3 linked regions of the Homo sapiens genome follow. The protein of the gene in region 3 purifies or fractionates together with the protein of the main gene of each other region. This does not show direct contact. Each region holds a gene or a part of one and is shown on either strand. Other genes may lie near its edges. The genes, in order: USP19, OBSL1 and CCDC117.

The links.
Region 1: the proteins of CCDC117 (region 3) and USP19 purify together in Homo sapiens (affinity purification with mass spectrometry; one large-scale study listed by BioGRID and IntAct). This does not show direct contact.
Region 2: the proteins of CCDC117 (region 3) and OBSL1 purify together in Homo sapiens (affinity purification with mass spectrometry; 2 studies listed by BioGRID and IntAct, with this or other methods). This does not show direct contact.

What each region holds. Positions count from the first base shown.
Region 1 is NC_000003.12:49,110,665-49,114,385, forward strand, and holds part of USP19 (ubiquitin carboxyl-terminal hydrolase 19), read right to left. Parts: intron 3,621-3,721; coding exon 3,510-3,620; intron 3,430-3,509; coding exon 3,328-3,429; intron 1,966-3,327; coding exon 1,825-1,965; intron 1,739-1,824; coding exon 1,620-1,738; intron 1,385-1,619; coding exon 1,247-1,384; intron 1,150-1,246; coding exon 836-1,149; intron 702-835; coding exon 591-701; intron 503-590; coding exon 286-502; intron 200-285; coding exon 47-199; intron 1-46. UniProt on the Homo sapiens protein: Deubiquitinating enzyme that regulates the degradation of various proteins by removing ubiquitin moieties, thereby preventing their proteasomal degradation. Stabilizes RNF123, which promotes CDKN1B degradation and contributes to cell proliferation.
Region 2 is NC_000002.12:219,554,531-219,558,251, forward strand, and holds part of OBSL1 (obscurin-like protein 1 isoform 1 precursor), read right to left. Parts: coding exon 3,654-3,721; intron 3,581-3,653; coding exon 3,293-3,580; intron 3,089-3,292; coding exon 2,813-3,088; intron 2,194-2,812; coding exon 1,924-2,193; intron 1,763-1,923; coding exon 1,490-1,762; coding exon of another isoform or gene 1,467-1,489; exon of another isoform or gene 619-1,466; intron 211-618; coding exon 1-210. UniProt on the Homo sapiens protein: Core component of the 3M complex, a complex required to regulate microtubule dynamics and genome integrity. It is unclear how the 3M complex regulates microtubules, it could act by controlling the level of a microtubule stabilizer.
Region 3 is NC_000022.11:28,782,695-28,786,194, reverse strand, and holds part of CCDC117 (coiled-coil domain-containing protein 117), read right to left. Parts: intron 2,688-3,500; coding exon 2,550-2,687; intron 107-2,549; coding exon 1-106. UniProt on the Homo sapiens protein: Facilitates DNA repair, cell cycle progression, and cell proliferation through its interaction with CIAO2B.

The sequences.
Region 1 (3,721 bases), on a different chromosome or scaffold from region 3:
CCTGGTCCTCACACCCCACCCACAGTTACCAAGGTCCACTGCTTACCTAACAGGGAACTCCACCAAGTCATTGATCTTGTCACGCCAGATAAAACTACGAAAGGAGAAGCGCTTGAGCTGCACGATGAGAACATTTGGCAGGCGCCATAGCAACAGCTGCTTGGAGGCCTCACGGTGCTGTTTGCACTGTGGGCAGTACCTGGTGGGGACAGAGATTGGGTCAGGACCAGCAAGTCTCTCTCTTCTCCATCCTGCCCCCTTATCTACTTGCTGCTCTGTTCTCACCAGGCCTCCTCGGGTGCCAGCACCTCAGGCCGTGTGAAGAGGTTGAGGCACTGGTCCAGGGTGAAGTGGCCGGCCCGGGCAGCCTCACCGGCAGAGCCTGGATCCTCAGCACATTCCAGCTCCTTGGAGGCTACCAACACAAACTCCTGCAAGCGCTCATTGTTCCGCCAGACGAGAGCCAGGCTACAGTCGTCACCCAGCTCCAGTGGGGTGTCTCCTGGAGATTCGCAGGGAGAGAGGTCATGCAGCTGTGGAGAACAGCCAGCTCAACCCACCCCATGGCTCCCACCCACAGCCTCAGACACCTTTGTCCTCTAGCCGCTGCTCTCGGTTGGATGAATCAATTTTATAGATGAAGAACTGGGGTGTGTGGGCATTCATAGCTTCACTTGGATGCTGGTACCCAGGCACAGCAGCTGTGTGAGAACATGATAATCAAAGCTTCCCTGCCCATCAGGGCCTCACCAGGCCCACCAGGCCCTAAACAACAGCCCCCTCCATCCTCCCTTATCCTCCTCCCCAGCTTCTAGAGCCTTTCACTGGATCTTACCTTCGGGTCGGGACACCCTCTCGCCAGCTGGCAAGGAGCCAACCTCAATGGGCCCACTGGCCAGCATCTCAGAAGAAATTCCACTGGTGCTGGGCACAGGACCCCGGTCAGGGGCTGCCCACACCCGGGGAAGCCCTGTGTCCCCCTCAGCCATAGGGGTCACCAGCTGGAGCTCAGGTGGCTGAATGGGGTCTCTCTCGCTGTCCCCAGCCTCCAGGGAACCTGTGGAGAGCAGTGTGGTGCAGCCAGGGCTCTGAGACTCCAAGGCCATGCGGCCTGGCTGAAAGGGTGGCTGGAATACACTCACAGAGTACCTGGCAACAGAGAACAACGCAAGTAAGACTCCTGACCAGCCCATCTAGCACCTCTGCCCCCACCTACACCACTCTAGTCCAACCACTGGGCACTTACCGGGCATAGCCCTCTAGCAACTGAGCGAGGCGGGCATAAGTGAGGCGTGAGGCAGGTACACTGACCAGGAAGGGGTAGCCAATGTTCTCAGGTCGGCAGAGGCCCTTGTGGTCAGGCCAGTGGGTTTTCTGGCAGAGCCTGACGGGAAGAGGAAGACAAGGATAGGCCCTTAGCCCCATCTCCTATGACTCCATACTGGGGGCTAGTCATAGTCCCTGGGAACTGGGTACGCCAGCCCTGCCTCCCCCAGAGCCTGGTAAAGTAGGGTGGCAAGTAGAAAGCTTAAGCATATGTGCCTTGGTGTGAAGGGAAGGAGCAGGGTGGCACATGGAAGGTGGAAAGAAAGGGTAGGGGAGACCATGGGGGTCCTCACTGGTTGCAGTAGCCCACACGGTAGCACCGGGTACAGCGCTTCAGCTTTTCATCCTCCGACTGTTGCTTCCGCTGGCAGGCTGCACACTTGGAGATGGGGACGCTGGGCACCTGGGGGCGCTAGGGTGGGTCGTCTGGCTCAGCAAGACCAGGAAGAAGTGCCCCACCCACCAGGGCGCTGTGCCATCAGGTTGGCCCCCACTCACCTGTTGCACCTCTAGCACCACTACCCGCTCCTTAGCCAACTCTGAGGATAGCAGCTCAAAGCAGAGGAGCGTATCAGATGGGGACACAGTGTCCAGTGAGTGGGAGGGTAGGAACACACGATGAAAACGATTCTTAATTACCTGGGGACAGAGAACACACAGATCCCACGTGAGGATAAGCCCTTTCCCTAGCCCTGCCCCAGAGTTTAAGAAGGCTTGGCCCTGCCTTGGGTCTATGTGGGCAGTGGTGAGGTCTGTAGGCCCAAATAGGCTTATGCCTCTGCTGGCACCTGTCTCAGTGCCCAATGCCATAAGGAGCCTGGTGCATCAGAGGGCCTGAAAGACCAGGTGTGAGGCAGATATCAACCACACCAGCTCTCCACACTGAGGGACTCTGCCCTGCTATAACTAGCATAGCCTTATAAGACTGTAACATATTATCATGGAGGGTCCACATTCAAAGAGCCTCCTCCCCACTCTTACCCCTAAGAAAACCAACACTGTCAGGCTAAAGGCTAGGAACCCCTGGGGAGAGCTAGCACACACAACTGGGATAAAAGGAGAGAGCAGCAGGATAGAGGGAGAGGCAGAGCGAACATAGGGATAGTCCTGCAGCTCAAGCTCCTTGTCTAAAAAGGGAAATGCAGTTGGGATCCACCACCACAAAGGGGAATAAACCCTGATAATGGCTAGGAACTGAGGGCACTTCTGTTGCACAGAAAAAATAACAGCACATCGCCTGTTTTTGTACAGTCACAGGCATACTCATGTGTATGTCTATTTTTATTTTATTTTATTTTATTTTTGAGACAGAGTCTCACTCTGTCACCCAGGCTGGAGTGCAGTGGCGCGATCTCGGCTCACTGCAACCTCTGCCTCCCAGGTTCAAGCGATTCTCCTGCCTCAGCCTCCTGAGCAGCTGGGACTACAGACATGTGCCACCACGCCCGGCTAACTTTTCCTGTATTTTTAGTAGAGGTGGGGTTTCACCATGTAAGCCAGGGTGGTCTGGATCTCCTGACCTTGTGATCCATCAGCCTTGGCCTCCCAAAGAGCTGGGATTACAGGCATGAGCCACCACGCCTGGCCCTATTTTTATTTTTTTATCTATTTATTTATTTATTTTTGAGACAGAGTCTCACTCTGTCACCCAGGCTGGAGTGCTGTGGTGCAATCTCTGCTCACTGCAACCTCCACATCCCGGGCTCAAGTGAGCCTCTTGCCTCAGCCTCCCAAGTAGCTGGGACTATAACACGTACCACCATGCCCAGCTAATTTTATTTCTTGTAGAGACAGTGTTTCACCAAGTTGCCCAGGCTGGTCCCAAACTCCTGGGCTCAAGTGATCTGCCCACCTCGGCCTCACAAAGTGCTGGGACTACAGGCATGAGCCACTGTGCCCAGCCCATGTGTATGTCTGTAGATGCCAATGACTGTACACACGTCTGTGGTGAGTACACACACACATCCACACATGTGATAGCCCAAGGAAGGACAAAGATACCTCCGCCAAACGCAGGTTCTCAGGCTTCACATGAACACTCTGAGAGAGGGAGTCCAATACTTCGCTCGCAGTGGAGTTCTCCTTGCTGACGCTCACCAGGAACTGTGGCAAAAAGGGCAGTCAGTGAGGGAGGTGGGCCACGTTCTCTAGAACAGCCCAGAGGGTAGGGGCTTACTCCTCACCTTGATGGGCTTGCTGTGGGGCTCTCGGGCAAAATAAAAGACAGGGAGAACCTTTTGCTTTTGTGGCAAGGGCACCGGCAGATAAAGAAACGGGTCAAAAGTGATGGAGACCTGTGGATGTAGAGGTGGCACTGGGTAGCTGCACACAGAGTGGGAGATAAGATGCTCATGCTCAGAGAGCCCATTCCGGGGCTTCTGATGGCTCTCAGGGC
Region 2 (3,721 bases), on a different chromosome or scaffold from region 3:
CTGAGTCGGCCAGGCCCAGGCCATTGAGTACCAGTCGGTGACGGTGGCCGTCCGAGTGGATGTGACACTTGGGTCCTGGATACAGCTGTACTCCACCCCGGGCCCACTCCCCGGTCACACCTTCCTGGGACAGCTCCAGCTGGAAGGTGGCACTGCCCCCCTCACTGATGGTCACGTCCTCCAGAGGCCGCAGCACCCTCAGCTGCCTCGCTGGCCGGGGGAGATGGAGAGAGGGAGGATGAGGCCTCCAGCTCTGGGCAGGGGTTGCAGTCAATCCTCATCCCTTGGCCCTGCCTACACCCCTGAACACCCAACCTAAGGTCCTGACCAAAAAAGTTCGGAACCAGGGTGCAGGAAGAAAGGAGCACGGTGGACAGATTTGGCGGGGGGAGGGCTGTATCAGGGTTAGGAGATGAGGGCACAGGAAGGGGGAGAAGTGTGGTTAGGGGGTCGTGGAGTCTGGGTGAGGGGTGCTGTGACACTTGAAGGAGCACGGAATTTGGAGTCAGACACACTAGGAATGGAACCTCGCTCTACCACATAGTTTGTGTGCTATGTGATCTTTGGCAAATGGCCTGACCTCTCTGGACCCCAGTTGCCCCAGCTGTACAAGGTGAATAACATTGGGACACAGGTTTATTGTGATGATTTCTTGAATGAAATAAGTTAGAAGAGATGTGTCACAAATGACAACCATTCACCAAGCTCTGTGTAAGAATTTTCATGTTATCTCAGTTAATGTTCCCAGAGACACTTGAGACGGGGATCAACCCCATTTTTAAAATTTGAGACAGGGTCTTGCTGTCACCCAGGCTGGAATGCCGTGACATGATCATAGCTCACTATAGCCTCAACCTCCTGGGTTCAAGCAATCCTTCTGCCTCAGCCTCCCTAGTAACTACCATGCCCGGCTAATTTTTATTTTTTTTTGTGGAGATGGGTTCTTGCTATGTTGCCCAGGATGGCCTCGAACTCCTGGCCTCAAGGGATCCTCCTGCCTTGGCCTCCCAAAGTGTTAGGATTATAGGCGTGAGCCACTGCACCTGGTCTCAGCCCCATTTTTAAGGAGACTTGGCTCAAAGAGGTTAACTTGCATGAGGTCACATAGGAAACAGAGGGCTCCAGCTTTGGGTGGGAGGTGTGGGGTGCTGTTTGACAGCCATCCCTGCTACTTAAGTGGGTATGTGTATCCCTAGAATACATGCCTGAAGGATGCCCATGGCAAGTCTTTCTGGAGAATATTTGTGTTTATAGCAAAGCCGACTTGGAAATATGCAATGGAATGCAAAATCCACATGGACTTCTAAGGTAAATAAAAAATATTAGAAAAAGAAAAGTTTTGCTTTGGGCAAGCTGCTGCTGGGACGGCCATGGGTGACTTTTCTCAGCGATGAGGGGCACTTTGGTGGGGGCCTGAGGGACTCCAGGACAGCCAGAAAAGGCTGTGGTGTAGGGTGGGTAATGCATTAAGAGAGGACGGGGCACTCACGCCTCACGCTGAGCCTGGCCAGGGTGCGATCGTGGTGGCTCTCGCAGCCGTAGGTGCCCTGGTCGGCCAGTATGACACCATGGATGAAGAGGCGGTGGATGTGCCCATCCTGGGCCATGGACAGGCGAGAGTCGTGGGGCAGGGGCTGCCCACCTCGCACCCAGCGCACGGCCCCCGCTGCACCCACTCGGCCTGTCTCCACTTCGAGACACACATCCTGGCCTTCCTCTGCCCGCACATCCTGCAACCGCCGTAGGAACAGCAGCTCTGTCTCTGGTGGGGAAGAAGGAGGCCATGGAGTCTGGTGGGGTTGGAGGCTGGCCCCTTGCTCCATCCCACTGGTCTGTCCCTAGGTGGAGAGGCAAGGCTGCTGGAATCCTGGTTGGGAGTACAGGCACGGGACACAGAGTATCTCATCCTCATCAGGACCTAACCTCGAACATGGAGCCGGGCACTTGTGGCCGTGCTCCCTGCCCGCAAAGTCACGGTCCCTGCATCCCCCAGTTGGCAGCCTCGCAAGGTTAAGATGCGGCTTGAACCATTCTGGGCCATCTCCACCTGGGGCCCTGGAGTGACGACGGCCCCATTGCGCAGCCAGGTGACATCGGCATCTGGTGGGGAGACTTCACACCGGAACGTGGCATCATCGCCCTCGTGGACAGTGAGTGGTGTCAGCTCCGAGACCAGCTTCACCAGCAGTGGCTCTAAGGGGCACGGTAAGGCAGTGAGCTGGGCTGAGTCTTTTCTTCTCTCTCCTTTTCATCCCCTCCTCAGGATGCAGGCCCTCGTCCCCAGTCATTTAACAGACCTTCTGTGAGGACCTACTATGTATCGACCACACCGATGGCCCAAAGGACAAGATGCCAGCTCCCTGCCACTCCTTTTAGTCAGTTCCTCATAATCCTAGCCTAGCACCCCACCTTGGTGGCACCCTAATAATATCAATTACCAGGGACCCTATTTACAGCATTTACTTGTCACAACAGGCCTATAAGAAAAGCACTATCCCCTCTTTTCAGAGCCGGGGCTCAGACAGGTTGAACAACTTGGCCAATGTCACACAGCTACTGGGGCACAGAATCTAGGCTGGAACCTGGCTGGGTGGACTCTAGAGCCCCTGCTTTTAACCACTGGTTTATGCTGCTCTCAACATGAGGGTTTCTGGAAAGAGGAGCCCTGAGCCCCTATCCAAGTGATGGTCATGCACGCACTGGTTGGAGCCAGAAGCAGCAAAGCGGGGGTGGAGGAGTAAGGGGGCCCTAGAAAGTGGCAGATGGTCCTTGGGGTGCCACAGCCCACAGGGTGTGAGGGGTACACTGTTACCTTCCACGCTGACAAGGAAGATGCGGCTGTCCTGGGGCGCATCGCACAGGTACTCCCCAGCGTCCCCGCTCCGTGCCCCCTGCACCCGCAGCACCTGCCTGGCCCCGGCCTGCTCCAGCTGCACCCGCCCCTGGCTTGCCAGTCGCTCCCCGTCCTTGTACCAGCGTACAGGGCCCCCTGGCCCGGAGAGGTGCACCACCAGCTCTAGGTCCCCGCCTGGGGTGCTCCGAACCCTCGTCTGGGCTGCCTCGGGAGCTACCACCCGCACAGGGGGCTCTGTGGAGTCAGAGCTGGAGGTCACTGGGAGGGAGAGGCTCAGGGCTTTGAGGAGGGCACGGGGAGGCATGACGGGGAAGGTACTGAGAGAAGTGGGGCCAGGGATGGGCAAGGCATGCTGGAAAAGCAGGAATCCCGCAGAGTTTGGGGTGCCACTCTCAGGCTTGGTGCCACTCTCAGGCTTAATGCCCAGGCTGTACTCACCAGCCACCTGGACGGTGAAGCTGAGGCTTGGGGCTCCGGGGGCTGCTCCAGACTGGCAGGTGTAGAGCCCTGCATGGGCTGGGCCTGCAGCCTGGATGCAGAGGACTCGGCGGGGGCCCTCGGCATGGAGCTCTAGGCCCTCGCCCTCCTGCACGGGCCTCCCATTGTGGCTCCAGACCACGGGGGCGCCAGCCCGGGACAGTTCACAGCTCAGCACCACTGGCTCCCCAGGGGCCACACAGAGCGGGCTTGGAGTTGTCTCTAGAGCAAGGAACTGCACTGGAGGCTCTGGAGAAGAGAGGAAGGTGTCATCCCATGCTTGCCCTTGCCTCCCTGCCCTGGGTTGGCCAGGAGCACCCACCAGCCAGGATGACATTGAAGGTGATGGCCTCATGCCGGGTCTCACACACATACTCCCCGGCGTCCTCA
Region 3 (3,500 bases):
TTGGCTCTCTCCTGTATAGTTCTTAGTATTAGAGGATGGCTTTGGCTTATCAGAAAGGAGTTCAGGGAGGGGTTTCCAGAGAACAAGCTCCATGGAAGGACGGCTCCTAAGACATAAAATACAGACTTTTATCAAAAAATTTTAGGACATGAAAACAAAAGCTGTAGGTTGAAAAGCCAACATTACCTAGTATCTTAAGGACTGATGATAGCAAAACAGGAGATTTAGAACACACAAACTGATCTTTACTTTCTTTTTTTTTTTTTTTTTAAGAGATGGGGTCTTGCTGTGTTGTCCACAGTGGAGTACAGTGGTACAGTCATAGCTCACCGCAGCCTTTAACTCCTGGGGTCAAGCAATCTACCCACTTCAGCCTTCCCAGTAATTAGGACTACAGGCACATACCACCATGCCTGGCTCCAACTGATCTTTAGAAAGGCCCCTCAAATACATAACATTGCACACTTCAACATGTATATTTAACCAAATCAAGTGGTTGTAATGATGCTGTGATTGGAAGTATTTAAAAATCCAATATGAAAACGCAGAGCCCTTGATTGTTGGAAATTTTTTTAAGTTGTGGTTAATATTACATGTAGGCAGCTAGCTCATACTAAATCATTATAAATGAAAAGGAAACACTGGACAAACATGCTGAAAGTATCTCAGATGCCTTTTAGTATAGGTACAAAGTATAATGCTTTATGGGCCAGGCACAGTGGCTCATGCCTGTAATCCTAGCACTTTGGGAGGCCAAGCCAGGCAGATGGTTTGAGCCCAGGAGTTTGCAACCAGCCCGGGCAATGTGGTGAACCCCGTCTCTACAAAAAATACAAAAATTAGCTGGGTGTGGTAGCAGGTGACTGTAGTCCCAGCTACTCGGGAGGCTGAGGTGGGAGTATCACCTGAGCCCAGGAGGTCAAGGCTGTGGTGAGCTGTGATCATGCCACTACACTCCAGCCTGGGTGACAGAGTGAGACCCTGTCTCAAAACACAAAACAAAACAAAACAAAACAAGCTTCATGGTTAAGGCAAAATGACTATGTTACACACACACTGTGGCAGGGATGGTGTATGGGCCCAAAGACGAAGCAAAAATAAAACATAAAATAATGAGATACCCTTGGCTGGGCGCGGTGGCTCACGCCTGTAATCCCAGCACTTTGGGAGGCCGAAGAGGGTGGATCACAAGGTCAGGAGATCGAGACCATCCTGGCTAACATGGTGAAAACTCCAACTCTACTAAAAATACAAAAAACTAGCCGGGCAAGGTGGCAGGCGCCTGTAGTCCCAGCTACTCGGGAGGCTGAGCAGGAGAATGGCGTGAACCCGGGAGGCGGAGCTTGCAGTGAGCCAAGATCAGGCCACTGCACTCCAGCCTGGGCAACAGAGCGAGACTCCATCTCAACAACAACAACAACAAAAAAAACGAGATACCCTCAAAGGCTAGCTTCTGGAAAACTACCAAAAGCAGAAAGTGCTATATTTTAGGCTGGAGGGCAACGTGACCAGCTTACTTCTGGCTATTTACCCACCCTTAGGGATGGGTACTTAATTATAAGCTCAAGATAGGACCCTAATGCAAAACCTCTGTGATCAAAGACCAAATAGCAGCTGAACTTCTAGCACAAATCATCTCCACTGTATCCAAAGGTAATAATGCCTCACCTATCTGCCCTCACTGACTGGTGTCCTAAGAGGCTTTTTCAGATACCTGAAACTTGCCCTTATTGAGTGCCAACTCGATCTAAAGTCTTTCCTAGGCACTTTATAACTAACTTCCTTACTATTTTACATAGTGAATAATGACAATTTGAGATCACGGAGGCTTCACGGACTACAGGATTAGAGCTGGGCTAATCATTACTCAGGGGCCCCAGGCCACTTTACTTTTTAGGTTATTGTGTTTGCTTTCCAGTTTCCTCTCTTGTCCTCACAGTGTAGTCACAGCTCCCTGTTAGGAGTTTTGTTTGTTCTGCTCTCATTTGCTGTTTCTGCTTCTACTCTGATGATCTAGGAAACCAGATAACTGAGCTCATAAACTGTGTTTAGATTAAGAGCAAAACAGTTCTGCTAAAGGCCTGGAAGGACTATGCTATGAGCCAAGAATATGAGCTTTGTTTTGCAGTCTTTGCAGCAACTGCTTTCACTGTTGGGCCACTTTATTTTTTTTCCTAGGCCGCAGTGTTGTTCCTGGGTCACTTAGAAAGCCAGGTAAACAAGAGCCTTTAAAATGTGGTTCCTGTATCACAGGAACTTGAGAGTGGGCTCTCTTGCCAGTCATCTCATTTCCAAATAGCAGACTGCAGTCCATTTCAGGTCTTCAAAGGAACCAAAGAGTAAGTAGGCAAGGCAGCCACTTCCCCATACTTCAAACTCCTGCTTGTAAAGCACTTTGCTCACCCCTAATGAACTAGGAAAAAGCCAATCTCCAATTGCCTGGGGATCAGGAGATAAAAAGAGCTAATGAGGACAGGGTGGGCAGAATCTAGACATTGGGTCTTCCCTCCAAGATCATAATTAAATAGAAATCAGGTACCAAAACTTACATAGACTCAATCATTTTCTTTGTAAAAACTTCATCAAATTCCCTCTTCAAACCTGTTTTCATGGTATCAGAAAGGACAAGACTGGGGAGATGGTTAACATTTCTGTCAGCTTCAACTTCTTCATCTTCATCAATTATCCTAAATCAATTAAGGCAGCAGAAGAAAGAAAAAATATTTAGTCAAGCTATTATATATTCTAGTATTTGGACAAAATTTTAAAAATAAAAAAGGATAAAAGCAGTAAGTAATACAGCAATAGAACAAGCAAAAAATGAGGCTATACCTGAGTATAAAAGGTATACTCAGGCCGGGTGTGGTGGCTCACACCTGTAATCCCAGCACTTTGGGAGGCCGAGGCGGGCAGATCACCTGAGGTTAGGAGTTCGAGAAGAGCCTGGCCAACATGGTGAAACCCTATCTCTACTAAAAATAGAAAAATTTGTCGGGTGTGGTGACACATGCCTGTAATCCGGCTACTCAGGAGGCTGAGGCAGGAGAATCACTTGAACCCGGGAGGCGGAGGTTGCAGTGAACCAAGATCGTGCCATTGCACACCAGCGTGGGCAACAGAGCAAGACTCCGTCTCAAAACAAAAAAAAACTATACTCAGAGGGTTGTTCAACATTTCATTTAACGAAAAAGTTTTACATATAATCAAATCTGAATAATATTTCAGAGAATTATCACATAAACCAAAATTAATACTCAGAGGCAGTAAGTGAAAACGCTCAGTAGTTCTATGAGAAGAATTCACTTTAAAAGCACATACTTCGGGGCCGGGCGTGGTGGCTCACACTTGTAATCCCAGTACTTAAGGAGGCTGAGATAGGCAGATCACCTGAGGCCAGAAGCTCCAGACCAGCCTGGCCAACATCACAAAACCCTGTCTCTACTAAATATACAAAAAAAGGCCGGGTGCAATGGCTCATGCCTGTAATCCCAGCCCTCTGG